Regions from separate parts of the Homo sapiens genome. Here region 2 is linked to region 1. Evidence: fine-mapped expression QTL. A gene starts in region 1. The other region holds a variant in brackets. All regions are shown on one strand. Distances are between the middles of the regions.

What was found.
Region 2: its variant is fine-mapped to the expression of GRIP1 in whole blood (INTERVAL, PIP above 0.99).

Annotation. Positions count from the first base shown.
Region 1 is chr12:66,676,669-66,682,051 of GRCh38, forward strand. GRIP1 (glutamate receptor interacting protein 1) reads right to left here and starts at 2,408. Exons shown (of 25, transcript NM_001366722.1): 1 at 2,182-2,408. The coding sequence starts at 2,236.
Region 2 is chr12:66,404,324-66,409,706 of GRCh38, forward strand. It overlaps GRIP1 (glutamate receptor interacting protein 1), which reads right to left. Exons shown (of 25, transcript NM_001366722.1): 16 at 1,960-2,105. Among named protein-coding and RNA genes, the nearest start is that of HELB, 100 kb to the left of the region's middle. RefSeq lists an enhancer at 3,502-4,002. The variant C/T (reference allele first, on the strand shown) is at 3,351.

The DNA of each region.
Region 1 (5,383 bases):
TGGGAGTTGAGGGTGAGGGTGTGGGAGTTGTGTGAGTAGGGAGAATGGGACAAGAAAGAAACTTCAAGTGTATATCCACCCCTGTCCCCAAATACACTCCTGACCCTAAAAGAAAGGTCATTTTAATATTGTAATTACATATGTTTCCTGGTTTTATCATTACAGCTTAAGAAAACAGCACCACAAGTATGGGTGGGGTGCTAGAACTCAATGAATCCACTTTGGAACAAGAAGCATGGGTGGAACTTGAACGTTGTTGGACAAGACTGAAGCAGATGGCAAGGCAAGGTACCGTGTTACTCAGGTGCATTCTTGTAAGTATTTGGACAGCCAGTTAAACACAAAGAAGAACCCAATTATGGCAAATTGATTCTGCAAAGAGATTTTATTTTAATCATCAACTGACAGTCTTAAGTTAAATACCAAATAGAGCAGACATAAAGATTTTGGAAAAAAGTGTGAGGTAGCAACTCCAAAGCAGTTATCAATACTTTCCTCAATTATCTAGATTTTTAGCGACTATCTTAGTAAACACTTAAATCTCCTTTCAATGCAGGAGATCAATGCTTCCATAAAATTCAGAAAACTGAGAAAGTTAAAAATATTTGTAAGAACTATAAATTGCTTGGGTTCACTCTCTTCCTTGTATGTAGTACTTATAAAAGAACTGATACAGATGAATAGAAAATACTGATTGTTTCATGTTTATGATGTAAGAAGACCATCAACTTCTCAACATCAAGATAAGTAAATGCCAAAATCAGGTCAGAAAAGAACTTTTCAGAATAAGGGCCTGCCTTTAAAAGTCTCAGCCAAAACCGTAACAGAAAGGATAGTCTCTTAGTCATGATTTATAAACAGAAATTGTACGTCTGTACCAATTGTAGAGGATAAAGTCAAAACAGAATTTACAGCCTCCTGCTAATAGCCTAATTTAAAATGTATAATCTTCCCTACATTTCCCCCAAAGTACCTTTTAAAGGACTCACTCTGCTATCCAAACAACTTGCAAATGCATTCGGTAAGTTGGTCTACAGTATTTATTCTCTTTCCTGTTATTGACTCAAGATCTATTTCTCATGATTTGCTTTGTGCTCATTCTTCTGCCAGATAAAATATTAATTGCATTTTTAGCTGCACTGCTGGTGATCAAAGAATTCTGATATGTCAAGCTAAACTGACAGAAATAGCATCCATTAACATATTTATAGGTTCAGAGCTTCTAGAACATAATTATATCCATTAATTACTCAACAGTACTCTATATTACAGGCTGAAAAAGAAAGGCATTTGCAACTAAATACTTTTACTCAGAATGAAGTTTTTTTTTAAATAATAAATTTTCTCTAAGGAAGGTTCTATCTAAAGGAAATAAGGCAAGAGAGCTCACATATCTATATGGACACAAGGCAGGATTTTTAAGGCATCCATTTACTAACTTTGCAATAGAATGCTCACAAAGTAAACGAGATGGCACATCCAGAATGGTTTCAAATAAAATAATACCTTAAATATTACAGAGAAATTTAATTACTATTTTAGAGTTCTAAGAGTGACAATCTGAAGCTGGTAATTCTTGATGATAAGATTCCGAGCAATGATTTTTACTTTCAAATAAACTTCTAGTATTACATAGGACCAAAGCATTTGGAATTACATACTTTTCTGAACATGCAATTCTAACACATAAAGAAATTAAAGCTGTCCAGGGAAAAAGCTCTTAAGATGTTGGAAAGTCATAGAACAAACAATTATTCTGTGGATCCACCAGCTGTGCGAGTCCTGAATCTGCCAGCTGCATTTAGTATATGTATCATAGAAAGGACAGTAACACACACTTGACTCCTTTTGGCCAGTTAATCAGCATGCAAAATGACGGTTTCCCACAATAACTTCAGCACCGGACCCAAACACATTCTCTTTTCAGCAAAGAATGAAGTCATTAAAAAAAAAATCACACAAGCTGCTTTCATAATTTCAGCACGAACACAACCGAGATGTAAGGACAGAAAGCAAAGCCGAGTCTACCTGTACATATGTATCTATACATATTTCACTGAGTTCTTTGTTGCCTGACAATAAATTGCAAAGGCAGTCATATTTGAAAGTAAAAACCATTAAACTGTGTTTATAGGATACTGCAACAGACTCGCTGAGGGAATAACAAGGAAAGCACGATACCTTTAGTAAGTCGCCTCAGAATTTGACAACGGCATTTAAAAGAGACAGCTATCATTCTTGCTCACTGCTTTCTGTGGCAAAGTGTACTCAAGGCTCTCTGCTCTGGTGGCTGCAGCAGCAGCAGCATATGAATTCCTTGCGCACATACCAGGAGAAAGGTAGTCCCAGTGGGGAGTGACAAAGCTTAATTCCTCTTGGCTGATGCAGAGGTCCGCTACATGTCATCTGGCAAATCTGTGTCATTCACTACTACTACCACCCCTGCCTGCCACAGCCTCCTCCCCCTTCACAATCACAATGGCTTAGAAAGTAATGCCGTTTCGATAGCAACAAAGCACCAAATTGTACAAAGCAGGGACGACACTGTGTGAGGAGCCATTCCATAAATCTAACGCTAAGCACTGAACAGTGCATTCTGTTTAAGGCAAAAGGCGATGTATCCAGTCAGTTCAGCCACCATCAGCCCCTTTCCTTCTCAGCATCAAGTCAGTGTCCTTTATATGTCTCATTTAATGGGAAATGCAAGTGAAATGCTTACACTCTTACTTTAGGAAGAAATGCATGGGTCATGTACTATGTTCTTTAAACAACAACCAAAAAAAAAAAAAAAAAAAAGGAAAGAAAAAGAGGGAGGGCCGTTTATATTTGGGATTGAGGAAAGAATCACAGTTCTGCCTATAGCGGGGAAGCAGCTCTAGGACAGAGACCTCTTTGGTACTTCCTGAACCTATGAGAGTTAAGGCAGTGTCTGTTTATAGAGGGAATACAAGAAAGGGTTAGGGCTAGGCAGACAATCAGGCAGATGGAGTCCCAGCCCCTTTAATCACCCTTCCAAAAAAGGACTTGGCTGGAAAGCAACACAGTCAAGACTGTTTCTAAAGATACCAGAAATAAAGGCAAACAAGGCCAAGTATTTCTATTTTTAATATACTTTATTATACTATTTCCCAAACAACCATCCCCCAAACCATTCTTCTCATTATGCAAATAAAACGGTCTTGCGACATAGCAGATATTTGTGAGTATCTGCTCCAATGGAGTGAAGAGCAAATTAACAAACCCTTCACAATCCATTCACAAAGTGATAAGAAGGCGGAGCACACCTCCTCATCTGCCAGCAGCAGCCTGCTCGCCATATAGTCAATACGAACTAACATTTGGTAGGGAATTTTAATCAAAATCCAGAATTCTCCCACAGGAGTTAACATAAACATTCAGGACAAAAAATTAGACAGTTGGCCAGGAAGTTTAAGAAAAAAAAAATCAATTAGTCAAAATGAAAAGATATATCACTGTCTAAACTACTTGATTAATATTTCTAGGACTTTATGAATTATTCATACAGTTTTATTCTCTACTCTTCAGGCTGTGAAAAAACTTTCAAGCTGGTTTTTAAAATAACTTCCAACATTCCAAATTTAGTGGTAAAACTTTCTTTTCTTCATTCATAAATTCAATATGAACTCAAACAATTTCAATCCACTGCTATTGAAATGCATATGCTTTGTATTTTGAGTCCAATAGAAAAATAATTTGTGTGTGAAAAACATCTGAATATCATAAGCATCTACTTTAAAGGTTTTTGAAAAGAACAGAATTCTTTTACCAAGGATGGTCTAGCTAAAGCAACCACTAATCAATAGAAAATACTATATTAAATGGACTGCAGTGCAAAATCAAATTTTTATAATTGTTCTGATTAGCATAAATCTTTCTTTGAATTTCAACCCATATTATGTTCATCTCTATTAGGTTATCCCTAGAAATAGTTTAGCCTCCTTGATATTTTTTTGCTTTAAATAGAAATATACCTTAGTACTAGAGAACTGAGTTACTAGCTAAAGTGAGATAAATACTTACAGTTAGCTCTTTCCAAGATTCTTCTCCAAATCTAACATATTTCCTAAAATCCAGGCACTCAGAATACGCAGCTGTCAATTACTATTAGTAGAATCTTGCCTGTGGAACACCACCACCCCAGCCCAGTCTATTCAAATACAACTCAAAACCATACAGGAATCTCTTGCCTTCTGCTATTTTGCAGACTCAAATCCAATTTGCTTTTTCCTTATGACTAAAATGATCAAATATTTTCCCCTTTTCCTAATATGCTTATTTTTTTTGTTTTGTTTTAAAAGCTCTATCCTCTGGTCCCAAGAAAGGTCTTCAGAACTACTAAAATGTCCTATTTCTTTGGCAGGGGAAATAACCCATCATGGAGCTCTTTGAAAGGTTTCTGAGAGCCCAAACTAGGGGATTGTTTTTTCTCTCTTTGAATACTGTGGCTGCCAATCCATATCTATCCTATTAGTCTGCCCAGGTGCAGCCCCAGGAATCTTACAGAAATGGAGCCTCCTGGAGTAATTCTTTTCCAGAAAATGAACGAATTCACCAGGTATTCCCATCTTCTTCCATTTCTGGCCTCGCTAATGCTTGGAGATTTCCTGGGGAGCCACTCCCAGGTCAACCTTCTTGCCCTAAACCCTTTGTCCTCCCTTTGCCTAATGCAAGCTTAGCCTCCCATCCTGAACTCTAGCACTGGTAAAATGCCTTCCAACAATGCAAGCCTTCTATCTCAAAATGTATCGATCTGTAGGATGAAGGTCTCAAATGGCCAAGGCAACCGGTGGAATGTGGACCACAGGCTCCTAACATGAGCTACTACAAGGCAGAGTGACCTACATTTCTTGGCTACCAGATCAATGTAAGCATGTGTCTTTGGGACCTGTCATGAACATGTTAATTATGGTGGCTCAGCTGTCTAGACAGTTCAAACTTTACAACATGCTCTGTGAGGGTCACCAAGTAGGGGTTATGGAAAAAGAAGGCAGGTAAAATTGTACAAAATACAGATTTGATTAAGCCCCAATGTGATCTGAAGAAGAGTGAGTGAGCTAGTTCAAGAGGTTTACCCCTCTTAAAAACACAAACACCTCAATACATGAAAACATGGGTTTGCTGGATTCAGGGCAGACTAGTCCCTTAAGATGATAATTCTTATTTCAGGGTTTCTTTAAAACATTAGTTTTGCTAAGGTGTAATACAAGTGTACCACGTTTACATAGAATTTAATGAATTAGAAGGCACTTTCACACATAATGTATCATGGAGCGACTCTGTTATAGGTTTTTGATGCAGAAAAGGAAAACTGGTTTCAGAGAAGGTGTTTTTCATCAAAGTCATTCAGCTAGTAAGTGGTAAA
Region 2 (5,383 bases), 270 kb before region 1:
TCTAGATGACCTGATTAACAAAATCCCAGAACATTGCCACAACTTCATTATTGGTTGCAATGAAATTATATACAGTAGACGTTCTCTTAACCAATCTCCACTTAACCAATTTACTGAATTAATTGTGGCTGTTCGTCTTCCACCATAAAATGTACAGACCAATGCCATGGCATGCTCCAGAGCAATAGGTTTCTTTATGTTGCCCCTCTGGGCTTCTGCTCCTGCTCCTGCTTGAGTTGTAAACTTCAAAATCTAGAGGCAATTATATTTATTCCTAAACCCGTTTATGCCAGCTGTACTTGTTATTTTAACTATGTAATTTAATTAATCTTATATAACCTATGAAATATGAATGTAGTTGTTCTATGAAAACAAAATCCAATGGTTTGGAAAGATTCAATAAGGGTTCGTTAGGCAAAAATCTATGGCCAGGCGCAGTGGCTCACACCTGTAATCCCAGCACTTTGGGAGGCCGAGGTGGGCAGATCACTTGAGGTCAGGAGTTTGAGACCAGCCTGGCCAACATGGCAAAACTCCATCTCTACTAAAAATACAACAATTAGCCAGGAAAGGTGACACACACCAGTAGTTCCAGCTACTCAGGAGGCTGAGGCACAAGAATTGCTTGAACCTGGGAGGTGGAGGTTGCAGTGAGCAGAGTTGGCGCCACTGCACTCCATGGCACACTCCAGCCTGGGTGTGCCACACAAAACAAGAAACAAACAAACAAAACATCTACTGTTAATTACCTAATGGAAAAACTCTACAACATTGGGGAAAACCAAAATCTAGGTGGAGGAAGAATTCAGATTGCTATAAATTCTTTAAAGTCTCACTGCATTAAAAACCAAACCAAACCAAAATAAAACTGGAAATCATAAAATATATATTGTGGATACGGTTTAGGCAAACAAACAAAAAGACTTGTAAGTATAATCAGCAGAACCATATTAATAGGAAAGGCCTTGACTTTACCCACGAGATTGGCAAAATTGTAAATTAAACGTTTACTTTATGGATCCATATCACATTCTGTAATTCCCCACATTAGCTGACTCTTTTGGTGAATGGACACTTTTCAATTGGCTCTATATTCTTATCATAATCAGATAAGATGTCTCTTATTTCAGGGCTACCCAAAGTGTGCTCCTTGCACCACAGCTGTGGCAGCATCTGGGTGTTTATTAGGAATCCAGAATCTCAGGTCCCACCTGGGGTGGTGCCAGGATCTGTGTTTTAACAAGCTCTTCAGATATGATTCTATGCCCTCCTAAGTTTGATTGGAGGGCCTAAAAAATGTGTATAGCCCTTTTGAAAAGCAACATGGGGCATGACTGACTCATCAGGAATCATAGACATTTCCTTTGTATTCTTACTCAGCCATCCTGCTTCTAGGAATATTTTCTTATTTCAAAAGAAAAAAAAAGCTGGATAAAGATATCTATGCATAAAGATGTCTATAAGAGTACTATTTACAATAATGAAACAATTGGAAGCAATATAGTGATTTAAGAAGAGAAGAAAGGTAAATCACAGGCAGTCAATAAAAATGATAGATATTAAGAGTTTATAAAACGATCAAATGTTTACAATGTAAAATTAGGTAAAAAAATGCAACATTCACTTGGTTATAGTTATGCCATATGAATACCAATAAAAACTAGAAAACTACCAGTTTCACTGTATTAGATGATGATTTAGATTTCATCTTTAAAAATTATTTTCATGCAATTATAATATGTTTTCTATAATGAAAATATCTTAATGATATCATTTACAAGCACCATTATTTAAAATTTGTACTACACTCTCAGCACAAAATTTAAAGACTCTTTTAGCTGTGAAACACTGCTGCCACATCACTAGCCAGCTGTTGTATGTAAAACATCAAGATCTAATATCTTTGGTGACAGATGGGCAGTTCGAAAAATCAGTTTTAACTAAGGATGCTCTCAATACCTGAATTATCTTCATCTTTGCGGATTTTGAGCTTCACCAGGTCTTCACATTGCTGGAGGATCTGAACTGCATCTTCCATGGAACAGTTGTCCAGCCGGATATTATCTATTGCGAGCAATTTATCCCCAAGTTCCAGGGTCCCAGTTCTGTTAGTGAATGCAAAGTAACACATGACTAATGATGAGCACTTAACTAGGCCATTTAAAGAGGCATTAAGCATAATGCAGCATTATGGTAGTCTTTAGAGGAAAAGAGGTTCAACTGTTTTTAAATTGTACTTCATTGACAACTCCCTCCCTTCTTCTAGTCTTATTTGGGTTGCCTGCCATGATATTAAATTGCAGAGTATTAAAAACATTTTTTCTTATACTTTTTTCAATTAAACAAGAACATATGTGTCACTCAGGAAGCATACAATTCCTAGGAAGGGAGGTAATGGGCGAGGGTCTGCATAGACCCAGGTATCCTTGTCTTTCTCCATATTGTTGTATTACTTTTGATCCTTGGTAGTCCAGATACTAGGAGAGCATTAAGAGAATGACAGAAGGCAAGGTGTAATAGAGTTAGTGGAAGCCTAAGGCTTGCACCTCTGCTACTTCCACTTGCATCTGGAAACTCACTATGGCCAGAGTAGCATGAAAATTTATAGATGAATCCATAGCTTCTTATTTGGAAAGTGGCCACTGAGACTCTAAAACTGGCTGTGGACCAGGGTAGGTCTGTTGAAAAAAATTTTAAGGTCCATAATGAAACAACAAAAAAAATAATGTGAATGTAGTATGTATATGTTTCTATGTGTGTATATGTATATATACACAGATTTGTAAGAACAGCCTTTTATGCATTATATCTGTGCCAGAGACTGCTAATTGTCTCCCAGCATCCATTCTCCCTTCCCTTCTTTTAAGTTACCCTCTAAAAATGCATGCCCCAGACTCTCTGGGGACCCTCCCCACCTCCTGCCTGTAGCTAGAAAATGGTAACAGGAGGGAGGCGGAGCAAGGTGGCTGAATAAAAGCCTCCACTGATCATCCTCCTTGCAGGAACACCAAATTTAACAACTATCCATACAGAAAAGCACCTTTATAAGAACCAAAAATCAGATGAGCAATCACAGTACCTGGTTTTAACTTCATATCATTGAAAGAGGCACTGAAGAGGGTAGGAAAGAAAGTCTTGAACTGATGATGCCGGCCCCTCCCCCATTCCTTCTGCAGCAGCCACATGGCATGGAGAGAAAAACTGTGCACTTGTGGGAGGGAGAACACAGTGAGGGAGAGACTGCATTGAAACTCAGTGCTACCCTGTCACAGCGGAAAGCAACACTGGGCAGAAGTCAGCTGATATCCACGGAGGGAACATTTAGATCAGCCCTAGGCAGAGGGGAATCA[C/T]CCATTCCGGTGGTCAGAACTTGAGTTCCAACACGCCTCACTGCTGCACGCTAAAGTGTTCTTGGGTACTAAATAAACTCAAGACAGTTTAAAGCCACAAAGACAGCAATTCCTGGACAAGCCCTGATGCTGTGCTGAGCTCAGAGCCAGTAGACTTGGGGGGCATGTGACCTAGTGAGAAACCAGCTGGGGTGGCTAAGTGAGTGCTTGCAACACCCCTCCCCTAGCCCTACACAGCACAGCTCACAACTCCCAGAGAGAGTCCTTCACTCTAACTGAGTAGAGAAGAGGGGAGAGTAAAGAAGACTTTGTCTTGCAACTTGGATATCAGCTCAGCCATAGTACGACAGGGCACCGGGCAGAGTCCTAAGGCCCCTTTTCTAGGTCTTTGCCCCGGGATAACATTTCTAGACACACCCAGGGCTGCAAGGGAACCTGCTGCCTTGAAGGGAAGGACCCAGTCCTGGCAGCATTTTTCACCTGCTGACTAAATATCCCTCGGGCCCTGAATAATCAGCAGCATGGCTGGGCGCGGTGGCTCATGCCTGTAATCCCAGCACTTTGGGAGGCCGAGGTGGGTGGATCACTTGAGACCAGGAGTTCAAGACCATCCTGGCCAGCATGGTGAAACTCGGTCTGTACTAAAAATACAAAAGTTAGCCAGGCGTGGTGGTGCACGCCTGTAATCCCAGCTATTCGGGAGGCTGAGGCAGGAGAATCACTTGAACCTGGGAGGTGCAGGTTGCAGTGAGCCGATTGCACCACTGCACTCCAGCCTGGGCAACAGAATGAGACTCTGTCTCAAAAAATAAATAAAATTAAATATAATAAAAAAATAAAATCAGCAGCAGTAGTCAGGTAGTACTTGCTGTGGGCCTTAGGTGAGACTCTGAGTTGTGCTGGCTTCAGGTGTGACCCAGCACATTCCCAGCTGTGGTGGCTATGGGGAGAGGCTGTTTCTGCTTGAGAAAAGCAGAGGAATAGTAAAAAGGACTTTATCTTGAAGCTTAGGTACCAGCTCTGCAACAGTAGGGTAGAGTACCAAGTGGGCTCTTGGGTTCCCTGATTCTAGGCCTTAGCTCTTGGACGTTTGTGGACCTGCTCTGGGACAGAGGGGAGCCCATCGCCTTGAAAGAAGAGTCCCGGCCCTGGCAGCATTCGCCACAAGCTGACTGAAGAGCCTTTGGGTCTTGAGTGAACATCAGCAATAGCCAGGCAGTACTTGCCATGGGCCTGGAGCAGTGGTGGCCAGGGGGAGAGACTTCTCTCCTTGAGGAAAGGATGGGAAGGACTTTGTCTTGTGTCTTGGGTGCCAGCTCAGCTATAGTAGAATAGAGCACCAGGTAGATTCCTAAGGTTTTTGACTCTAGGACCAGGCTCCTAGATGGCATCTTTAGACCTGCAAGGGGCCAGGGGGAGCTCACTGCCCTGAAAAGAAGGATACTACCCTGGCTGGCTTTGCCACCTGCTGATTGTAGAGCCTTTGGTCCTTGAGTGAACATGGCCTAGTGGTAGCCAGTAAGGGTTTACTGGCAGCCATAGTTGAGACCTAGTACCACGTTGGCTTCAGGTCTGAACCAGCATAGTCTCAGTGGTGGTGACCAAGGGGTGCTTGTGTCACCCCACCACCCCTCAGCTTCAGGCAGCTCAGCACTGAGAGAGAGACTATATCTGTTTGGAAGAAAAGGAAGAGAACAAGAGTCTCTGCCTAGTAATCCAGATGATTCTTCTGGATCTTACCCAAGACCACCAAGGCAGTATTTTTGAGTCTGCAAGAGCCATAGTGTTACTGGACTTGGGGTGCCCCCTAATGGAGATACAGGTGAAGTGACCAAAAACTTAGATCACAACACCCAAGCCCCTTCGAATACTTAGAAAGCCTTCCCAAGAAGGACAGGTACAAACAAGCCCAGACTGCAAAGACTATAATAAATACTTAACAATTCAATTCTCAGACACCAATGAACATCCATGAGCATCAAGACCATCTGAGAAAACACGACCTCACCAAGTGAACTAAATAAGGCACGAAA